Homo sapiens: one gene and its partner. The protein of the gene in region 1 interacts with the protein of each later gene in a pairwise test. Each region holds a gene or a part of one and is shown on either strand. Other genes may lie near its edges.

Region 1 (7,217 bases):
GAACTAAGTATAAAAGAAAACATAATAAATTATACTTTCTCTTAATTATAAACTTCTGCACATTAAAAAAATTAAGAAAATTAAAAGGCAAGACATAGATTGGGAAGAACTGTTTGCAAGACATATATTTAAAAATTGGATTATCTAAAAATTTAACTTTATAAAGTTAAATTCTAAAATACCCAATGGTATTGACATTTTAAATAATTACCTAAAAAAATGAAAGTATATGTCCACAAAAAGTCATTTACAAATGTTTACAGTAGCTTTACTCATAGTAGTGAAAAACTGGAAATAACATAAATATACATCAATGGATAAATGAATACAAAATTATAGCATATTCATACAATAGAATATTGTTTCACAATACAAATGAACAAACTACTAATATACACTACATGGATCCCTTTGAATAATGTGCTGCCGAAAAAGTCAAATGCTAAAGAAGTATAGGTACTTAATTATTCCATTTCTATGAATAAGCAAAGCTAATCTGTAGTGACAGAAAGTATATCAGTTATTGTTTGGTGGGTAGGTGCATGAAAGGAAAATTGACTACAAAGGTTAATGGACGTTTTCTTATATTTACGTCTTTGTTGGTTCATGGATATAATCATTTGTCAAAACTCATCAAATTTTGTACTTAAAATGGGTGCATTTTATTATATGTGAGTTATACATCAATGAAAAAGACATTAAAAAGAAAAAATGTTAAATGGGTAAAAGGTATGAATAGATAATTTTTAAAAAGATACAAATCTCCAAGAAGTTCATGAAAAGTACTCCATTAGTCATCAGGAATATGCAAATTATGACCACTGTGACATATTATTCCATATTTATTACAAATATCTACCCTATCACTCATTAGTTTCACTCCTGGGTCCGAATCCAGAATAAATAAAAACATATATCTAATAAGACTTGTGCAGGCTTCTTTTTTTTTCCCCACATATAAGTGAGATCACATAGTGTTTGTCTTTCCTTATCTGGCTTATTTCACTTAGTATAATGTCCTCAAGTTTCACCCATGTTGTTGAAAATAGCAGTATTTTCTTCTTTTTTAAGGTTCAATAATATTCTATTGTATGTTTATACCACATTTTCTTTATCCATTTATCTGTTGATAGATAATTTGTTACCACATATGGACCATTGTTAATAATGCTGCAATGAACAAGGAAGTGTAGATATCTCTTTAATATACTAATTTCATTTTCTTTGGATATATACCCAGCAGTGGGATTGCTAGATCAGATGGTAGTTCTCCTTTTAACTTTTTGAGGAACTTCCATATTGTTTTCCATAATCCATAATGGCTGTATTAAATTACAATCCCACAAACAGTGTATAAGGGTTCCCATTTCTCCACATTCTCACCAACACTTGTTATCTTTTATCTTTTTAACAGCCATTCTCACAAATGTATGGTAATATCTCCTTGTGATTTTTATTTGCATTTCCCTAATGATTAGTGATGGTGAGCATCTTCATATACCTACCTGTTGAGTGCAATAATGGTTACCATGAGTGGAGGATGAGACGAAGGGAAGATAGGCAAAGGGTACAAACCTTCAGCTATAAGATGAGTAAATGCTAGAAACCTAATGTACAGCATTGTGATTATAATTAAGAATTATTATAATTAATAATAATTGAAATGTGTTAAGATAGTAGATCTCAAGCATTCTCACCACAGCCAAAAAAAGGTAACTATGTGATATGATGAATACTTCAATTAGCTTGATTGTGGTAATCATTTCACAATGTCTACATATGTCAACACATTTCATGAGAAACCCCAAATACATGTGATTTTTATTTGTCAGTCATACCTCAATAAAGCTGGAAAAAAGTTAGACATAAAAAATAAAATTAGGAGAAAAATACTTTGTGGAAGAATCTTTATAGCTGCTTTAGCTATAAGAGGACCAAACTAGAAACAAACAAACTACCAATCAATGTAATAAACAAATGTAAAATAAGCATATAATGCAATTATACTTACCTTTAAAAAGAATTGTACTACTGACTTAAAAACCCACATTGAAATGCTTGAAAAAACATTCTGCTGAGCCAGAGACGTCAGTCTGACAATATAATATATATGGTATCATTCTATTCATATAAAGTTCATGAATGGCCAACTATTCTTTGAGGACAGAAATCAAAACAGTGGCCCCCTGTGGAGGGAAGATTGGCTGGAAAGGATGTGAGGAAACATTCCAGGGTGAAATAAATGTCCCGTGCCCTGACTGAGGTGACCATGACATGGTTGTATATACCTGTTAAACTCATTGATTTTAGAAACTTGAATTTAAGAACTCAAGATTGGTTACAATTTACTCCATGTTGATTTTATCTCAAATAATTAAAAAAAAAGCCAAGACAACTGAGTAATTATAGCCTTTAATACCCCTTTTCTTTCATGGATAATCTGGCTAATAAACATATAGTTCTGAATTAATGTTAAAACCTGACTTCATCTACTTTTCTTTGAAGAAAGTTATTTTAAAAATCATTCTTTTAAATACAATTTTATTATTTTTTAGGTATTAGAACATCTAATCCATAGTTCACTCATCATTGTCAGCATCCAAAGAAGTAAAATGACATTTATTGTTTTGTTTAGTAATACTTGAGATTTTTCACTTAAGAACTAATTATTATTATTATCGTCATTTGTATTTCTTCCCAATAGCAAGGAAATATTTACTGAATACTGGTGAGAAGCCAATGGAAGAGAACAAGAATATCTAAGAGAAGCAGTTGTTATTAGTTGAAAGGTTTAAGACCTACCAGACAACAGAGAATGCACACACCCTGCGAGAGCCTCACCTTGTGACATTTGTTCTTTACCTTTTTATTTTGCCTTTTAGCATGGCATGCTGAGCACCTCTGAGTTTTCAGGGAAGGAGCTGACAGAAACAGGAACAGAATAGCTGGGAGCTCCAAGATTCACATTCCTTGCAGGAGCTGGTGTGAGTTTTTGAGGCTGCTGAGTAACAGGAACCGCAGTCTTTGTTGCCTGGATGTATCCTGGCAACCTGTCAACAAAAGGGACGGGACTGAGTTCTCTAGTAACTGATGGGAAACAGAGCAAAGTAGGTATGGATTTCAGCTTTCTTTTAAATTGACTCCAGGAACTTTACCGATGGACTGAGCAACCAACAGGGACAGATAAATTTAAGTCACAGGCTCTTCTTGATGTAGAAACACAGCGTTTTATTTTAAAGAAGAAAAGAAAACAATATTTACTGATTATCTTATTGATCTTTTCTAGGGACTTTAAAAAATACTGTAACGGTTAATATTGAGTGTCAACTTGATTGGATTGAAGGATGCAAAGTATTGTTCCTGGGTGTGTCTGTGAGGGTGTTGCCAAAGGAGATTAACATTCCAGTCAGTGGACTGGGAAAGGCAGACCCACCCTCAATCTGGGTGGGCACCATCTAATCAGCTGCCAGTGTGGCCAGAATAAAGCAGGAAAATGTGGAAGGACTTGACTTGCTGAGTCTTCTGGTCTTCAGCTTTCTCCCATGCTGGATGCTTCCTGCCTTAGAGCATTGGACTCCAGGTCTTCAGCTTTTGGACTCTCGGACTTACACCAGTGGTTTGCCAGGGGCTCTCAGGCCTTTGGACACAGACTGAAGGCTGCACTGTCGGCTTCCCTACTTTTGAGGTTTTGGGCTTCCCTACTCCTCAGCTTGCAGATGGCCTATTGTGGAACTTTACCCTGTGATCATGTGAGTCAATACATTTTAATAAACTTCCCATCATATACACATCTATTCTATTAGTTCTGTCCCTCTAGAGAACCCTGACTAATACTAATACCATCTATATAGAAGAGCTTGGGCCAGTCGCAGTGGCTCACACCTGTAATCCCAACACTTTGGGAAGCTGAGGCGGGTGGATCACCTGAGGTCAGGAGTTCAAGACCAGCGTGGTCAACATGGTGAAACCCAGTCTGTACTAACAATACAAAAATTAGCCGGGCATGGTGGCACACACCTGTAATCCGAGCTACTTGGGAGGCTGAGGCAGGATAATCGCTTGAACTCGAGAGGTGTAGGTTGCAGTGAGCCAAGATAGCGCCGTTGCACTCCAGCCTGAGCAACAAGAGCGAAACTCCATCTCAAAAAAAAAAAAAAAAAAAAAAAAAAAGAAGAAGAAGAAGAGCTTGGTCTCCTCTAAAACAGGGAAGATGGATAGTCTCCATGGCTCTCAAAGCATGTTCTATGTTTTGGTCTAAAAGGCAAGCAACCACAAGATGTAGAAGCTATGCTTAATCTATTTTTCTAACATGTCCTAAAACATAGAAAATATTTTAAAAACTAAGGCCAGTATTTAAAAATATATCTGAAGCAGTGTTTTCAAGATTCGTATTTCAAAATACTCTGAGATATTAAGATAATTGTAGTACAATTCTACAATTAAATATTCTGCAAGCATTAAAGCTTATGAGGCAACAGTTTATTGACCTGGGAAAAAGTTTACAATATATTGCTAAATGAAAAAGAGAAGCTACAAAACAGAATAAATAGTATAATCTCATCAAATTCTTTGTGTGTGCTCATGTGCACACAAACACACAATTAACTCAAAGAATATACATCCCAGTGTTAACAGTGGCTACCTATGAGTGGTGAGATTAAGGAACATTTTTACTGAATGTTCCTTACTGGTTAGCAAAAAAAAAAAAAAAAAGAACAAAAACTTGACCTCTAATATTCCCCAGCCCTGCTCCTTGTCCCCAGATAATGTAATTGGGATATGGAGGTAATTCACAGGACTCTTAATTCTGCTGAAGTGACTCTTCAGGCCACACAGTCTAGAGATCCCAAGGGACAGTAACGTTTCACATCCTAACTTGCAATAACGCTCTAACTATTCTAGATATCTAATTTATGATATAAAATATTTCTAATTAAGATGCTTCTGAAATCATACGATACATATACAAATAATAATACATGCATACAATGACATAGAGCTGATATAATATCAGTGAGTAAATGTTGAGATGGCGGCAAGAAAACCCTGTTTTACCTGTTGCCTTTTACTGACCTGTAGGCCCCTAGTTAACACACTTTTCACTTTACACAAACTGCATGTTTTATCGGCCTTATTGTGAACTAAATGTGATCTTTCTCTAAAGAAAGTGCCCAATAAATAAACATCATCCCAAATGCACACCCAATATTCAGTCCAGTGGCTGGCTATTTGGGCCAGATGGCAGAAGAGACAGGAAGTGTTGGCCTATGACAGGACAACCTCAGGAAAACATCACGAGAGTGGATATTTCTGAGCTAAAGCAGGGCAGAGTCTCTATCCTGGCTGGAGCAACTCTTAGGAGGCCCAAGAATAACAGAGCTTGCAGGCTTTGTTAGCTGTAGCTGATGGTGCACTCACGGCCGTCTCTTCCCTGGTGCTGTGGCTGAGTTGCCAGCTGCTTTTCTGTATTCATCGAAGCTGCTTCTAAAACTGGCTGGAGTGGAGCCTTTGTTTCTTCCCAAATTCTGGACTCATTTTTAATTCATGGGTTTATAGTTTCAGTCAGAATTGAACTTCCTGGTGTTCAAATGTATTTCATCTTGGCAAAACAGGCGTTCCTGGGTGCTCTGTCTCTGTCTCCTTCTCCCTGTCTCTGTGTCTCTCTGGTCTTTCCGAGCGACCAAAACTTTTAAGCTGCTCGTATTTTTTTTTTTTTTTAAGCATGCGCAGAGGCATCTTCGACATCAAAAAGCTCTTACAACACACAACCTTTTGAAGATTTAAGTGTAAATGAAGCAGAAACATATGGATTCTATTTTCCATAAATCACATACGGTCCTAAAAAATCAAGGAGGGTATGTGTTTTGCATGATGTATTCTGTTTAGTTGAACCCAAAACATCTGAGGCATACTTGGAGGTTGATGAATCCAAAATATTTACCCATCCCTATTTATAACATTGTGGGGGAGCCCTTGATTTATGGTGACAACTAAACTGCTCACATCTGTTGAGTGGGCAACCAGCAACCAGTGTGAGCTTCAAAGATAACCGTGTTCCTTCTTCTGTTCTGACTCCAGGCATTCAAGTCAGACCCAGATCAAAGACACTGAAGCCTTTACTTGAGCTGGTCTGGTTTGCTCTTGCTTGAGCTTTTCTCACCTAAAACAATTGCCAGTTATTTCAAGTTATGTGATATCCAATCATGCTTGTGTCACTGTGGGATGATGCCAGCCTCCAGCAATAATCCAGATCTGACCCCTTGTGGGAGCAGCCCCACCACAAGGAATTCTGGATTATTTTCCCTTCATAAAACCACAGCTGTTGTGCCTGCACAAGCCCCTGACTTTTTCATTGAAGGAATGAATCACATTTTCATGGAGCAGGAGAAATGCTTCTCCTTGTTGGTATCTCTGCCTATCCTCAAGACTCTTCACTGATGCAAAGCCCAAATCTTACTTTGCAAGCTACCAATAATCCTTTGGAGTTTATTTAAACTTGGCAGAGACTACATTCTGTGAGAAAAAAAAATTGCAATGGCAGCAGCAGGGATCCAAACAGGATGTTTGTGAAGTCTGGCAAAATAGGTGCACTGAGTGCCTTGTTCTTGTCTACCTAATTATTGTTTACTTCATTCTTATCGCCTAACTCCGAAACAGCAAGTTCCAGCCACCTGACATCCGTTATCTCAAATCTTTTAACCATCCTACAAGGTAGGCATTAGTATCCTTGTTTGACAGATTAGAAAACTGAGGCTCAAGAGCATTAAGCAACTTGCCCCATTGACAAGGCTATTCCAAAGCAAATCTGGGATGGACATGTGTATCTTTCTGGTGCCCAAATGGCTTCCCTTCGCTGCCTTCTGCTAGATCTTGCTGCCATATTCCCATACCCAATAAATAATATTTTCTATGACTTGCCCAGACTGAGTAAACATTTAAAACCTAGACCTTCATGTCTCCGAAACAGGAGGCTTGAAGAAACACTGAAGAAACATTATATATAACACTGAAGAAACATTCCCTGTCCATAGGAAGGGAGATCAAAAGACAGAAATCCTTCTATCTGTCCTGGCAATGTTTTTATTATGAGTCTGACCTCAAAAGAGAGAGTCATTTTTCAAATACGCCTTTTGTCACAAGAACAGGCTTTGTATAAACTGAGTTTTATATACTGTACTAGACTGAACTGTAAAATGTCTACATTTAAAATAGTGCAA
Region 2 (3,768 bases), on another chromosome or scaffold:
CACCTGTGGTCCCAGCTCCTTGTGAGAGAGGCTGAGGTGGGAGGATTGCTTAAGCCCAGGAGTTTGAGGCTGCAGTGAGCTGAGATTGCACCACTGCACTTCAGCCTGGGTGACAGAGTGAGACCCTGTCTCAAAAAAAAAGAAGAAAATACTACATATATGCCTACTGTATGGAGGCACACTGCTAGGGATTCAGTGGATGACAGAGAGTTGTAAGGACTGGGGTAGTGGGTGGGCAGTGGTCAGACAGTTGGATGCTTACGTTTAAGAAGTCAGACCAGGGAGATGATACCAAAATCCATGGAGTAGGTGGTTGAAGGGGAGAAGATGATCACTGGAGTTGAGGGGGTCAGGGGACTGTGAGGCCAGAGTATTGGTTGGATCATTCACATAAACAGTGAAATCACTCAGGATGGCAGCAAGAGTTGGAGAAGAAAGGAGCACTTGGCTCAAGTGCCAGATTCTTCCCTGAGTATAAGGATGAAAGTGTCATGCCCACAGCCACCTTGCTGGAACAAGGCCCACAGGAACTCACAGGCACCTATCTTCTCCCCCATCTTTGGAGGTGCTACTGTAGAACTTTTCCCTCCAGGAAATCCTCACCCATTCCATGCCCTCACAGCAGCAGAGCTGGGTCAGGATTAGGGTCAGTACCTTGAGAACAACTGGAAAAGCCTCGCCATGACCTCCTCCTCTCCTCTTGTAGGCAGTAAGTCTTTATTCGTCAGAGAATAGGAATTAAGAAAGAAAGTTTCCTCCAGAGCTAGATAGCTCCTTGGTTGCGGCCAGCAAGCGAGGCTTGTTTGGGAGTTGCGGAGGACTTCTTCACTGGAAGTGGGGTGCCTCAGTGAGGCCAAGGCAGAGTAGGAGAAGAGCAAAGATAGCATTTCCTAAAGGTGGAAGGCGATGAGGACACAGGCAGTTTGACTTCTTGGAAAGGGCTCAGTAGTGGGCTGGGACAGTATCCAGGGCTTCCTCAGGTTCCCGGGTGATGTCCACATTCTGAGGAGAGAGCGCAGGATTAATAGGAAGGAGACAGCAGTGCAGGGCCCCAACCTCTCCCCTGCCTCTTGTCTTCATTGCCAGGCTCCCCTCTTTCAGCCAGGCCCGGATCCTGACCCTCAGGTAGGCCTGGGGGAATCTCAGCCTGAGGCCTTTTAGGCGGGAATTGCCCCAGCCTTGCATCTCCATGGTGCCTCGTGTCTGGGTTGTGGTTTCTGCATTTCTGGGTGCTGTTTGCTCCATCTGTTGGTGCAAAACACCCAGGCTTGGTGGGGTTGGGGCAGCCTTTCTGTGGATAAGGTGCTTTCACCATGTGCTGTGTCCACAGCCAGCTTGGGCCATGGAGTCCCCCACCTACCTCAGGCTTCTCCCGGTGTGTGTTCACGGCCTCCACATTCAGGTAGATGGATTCCACTTTGCAGCCTTAGAAAAGAACAATCCATCTGTCCATAGGCCCCCAAGGTAGGCACAGGTCTTCCCTGAGGTATCACCTCCCCTCCCCCATCACCAGCCACACCCCCAGCTTCATACTGTGTACAGATCATGACTCGCCTGTATGGAGGAGAATTTAGACAGCTATGTGATGTGTGGGGAAGACACCAGGCCTAAGAGGCAGCCAACAGGGTATCCTGTCACCTCTGCCCCTAACAGTCTTAGTTCGCTGAGCTTCAGGTGCTCATTTGTAAATGGGGATGGAGATGAGAGATGAACTCTGGCTGCCCACAGCTCTTGAGGTCCGCAGGACAGCAGTCTCATCTATGTAATATTGATGTAGCTCTGCGGATCCTCCAAGCCGTGTTAGGTGGTGAAGAGGTGGAAGAGTCCTGGGGCCACTGCCTTGGGCGATCAGTGCCAGGCAAAGTTTATCTGGAGGACAATGTGGTTGTGGCAACACCAGGAGTATGGAAGTTCACCTGGGAGTTTTAGGAAACCTGAAGACGGATGAGGGTGCATCATTGGGGCTTGGGGCTGACAGAGGGGGCCTAATGCCTGTGGAAGCTCCCTTAGCTTCATCCCTGTGGACTGCACCTTACTCCAGGCTTCAGTAGGTCATCTGCCCTGTTCGCACCCCAGAATAGATTTGATTCTGTCCCTCCCCTGTTCATGAACCTTTCATAGCTAATGTCCCAAGAAAGACCCTAAACTGCCCAGGCTGGTCTTTGTGCTCTTTCTCCAATACGGCCCTAACCTATAATTTTCCTCTGGTCCCCTTTGGGGAATCCCCCTTCCACAGCTTGGTGCTCTGTGCTGGGTGCTCTGGCAAAGACACAGAGTCAGAGCCAGCCCCAGATTTAGAAACCATCCTACTCTTTCCCTGTTATCCTACTACCATCAGTCCCACCCCCACCACCCACTAAGGGAACCTCCTGCAGGACACCCACCCAGGAAACCTCCTGCAGGACTCTTCTGGGCAAATGGTAGGCACTAGGGCCATGCTCATAGCCTCTATATGCCTGTCCTTTGATCAGGGTGGGAGTACTTACCATAAGCCACAGGAGTGAGTTTGAGCACTGTGTGCAGAGGGCACTTGAGATATGGAAGCTCATCTAGAAAGGAACAGGAAGCAGCCCTCAGAGGCAGGGTGCTGGCCAGGACACAGCCTCCCCAGGCCCCCAGGCTTGCTGGATGCTCCCCATTCCATGTCCCCTTGCCGTGGTGGGGCCTCACCAGGGGCCCACTCCCCACACCCTGCAGGGGCAGCACTGAGAGCACCTGGGAAGAGAGGAGGAGAGCAGGGAGGCAGGAATGCCTTGGAAAATGGTGGTAGACTGGACTGGGTGTCCTGCAGGAGGGTTGGGCCGGCCACCCTGGAGACGGCCACCACCTCACTCACAGGACAAATGAGACCCAGGCAGGCTTCTCTCCCGCCCCAAGCCTGGGGCCTTCAGCAGACCCCACACCACAAAGGCCCACAGTTCACGTCAGCAAGTGTTTTTTGAGACCCTGCTGTGGCAGTGGACAGCTCCCACAGCCTTCTCCCAGCCTGGCCCGCTCCCTCTGATCATCCCTGCCTCAGGCCTGGTGATGGACAAGCATTTGTGCATTCACTTGTTTCCAGTTATTGACATTATGCATAAAGTTGTTCTGAATATTCATATGCATTCTTGTCTGGGTCTATGTTTCCATTTCTCAGGCAAGCCCAAGAGGTGGGGACAGTAAGCCCATTTCATGGTCTCAGCCAACTGAGGCCTTGAGAGGGAAAATGCTCTCCGCAAGTCACACAGCCAGGAAGCAGCAGAGCAAGGCCTTGAACCTGGGACCCTGTGAGGCCAGAATGCATGCACTGGCCCCTACTGTCAACTGCCCCTGCCATCCAGGGGCTTGCAGTGTCCTGGGGGTGATAAACCCACCTGCTAGGCACTCTCTCCTGACACCCACTTTCCTGCCCACCTGCACATAACGCTACCCATTTCCCTTCATTTTGCAGGATCACCGACCCTCATGGCTTCCCTCAACAGCAGGTTCCACCCTAGGTTTCTGAGGTCTGCCACTGCCCTCCCAGCCTCCTGAGACATTAGGTTGGCTTTTTTCCTTCCTGGGCATCCATCCTGCTGCTCCTCCTTGTTTTTGTCATCATCAGGCCCTGGGCCAAGGGTGTTTTGCCCACTACCTCATGACACCCTTAAAGCTAGATTGAGGTACTACTGTACACCCTCCTTGTACACTTGAGGAAACAGACTCGGAGAAGGGAAGTGACTTGCCTGAGATCTCTGACCCAGCTCTGCCACTGCCTCCACTAATGACCTTGGCCCGGGCTCTTCTCTC

The links. The genes of interacting proteins can lie anywhere in the genome.
Region 2: the proteins of ZNF474 (region 1) and PFKFB1 interact in binary tests that used the Homo sapiens proteins (3 or more experiments, as listed by UniProt).

What each region holds. Positions count from the first base shown.
Region 1 is NC_000005.10:122,125,329-122,132,545, reverse strand, and holds the start of ZNF474 (zinc finger protein 474), read right to left. Parts: upstream 3,001-7,217; 5' UTR 2,863-3,000; exon of another isoform or gene 2,705-2,862; intron 1-2,704.
Region 2 is NC_000023.11:54,932,461-54,936,228, forward strand, and holds the end of PFKFB1 (6-phosphofructo-2-kinase/fructose-2,6-bisphosphatase 1), read right to left. Parts: exon of another isoform or gene 2,557-3,768; intron 2,550-2,556; coding exon 2,487-2,549; intron 1,426-2,486; coding exon 1,361-1,425; intron 1,003-1,360; coding exon 943-1,002; 3' UTR 501-942; downstream 1-500. UniProt on the Homo sapiens protein: Synthesis and degradation of fructose 2,6-bisphosphate.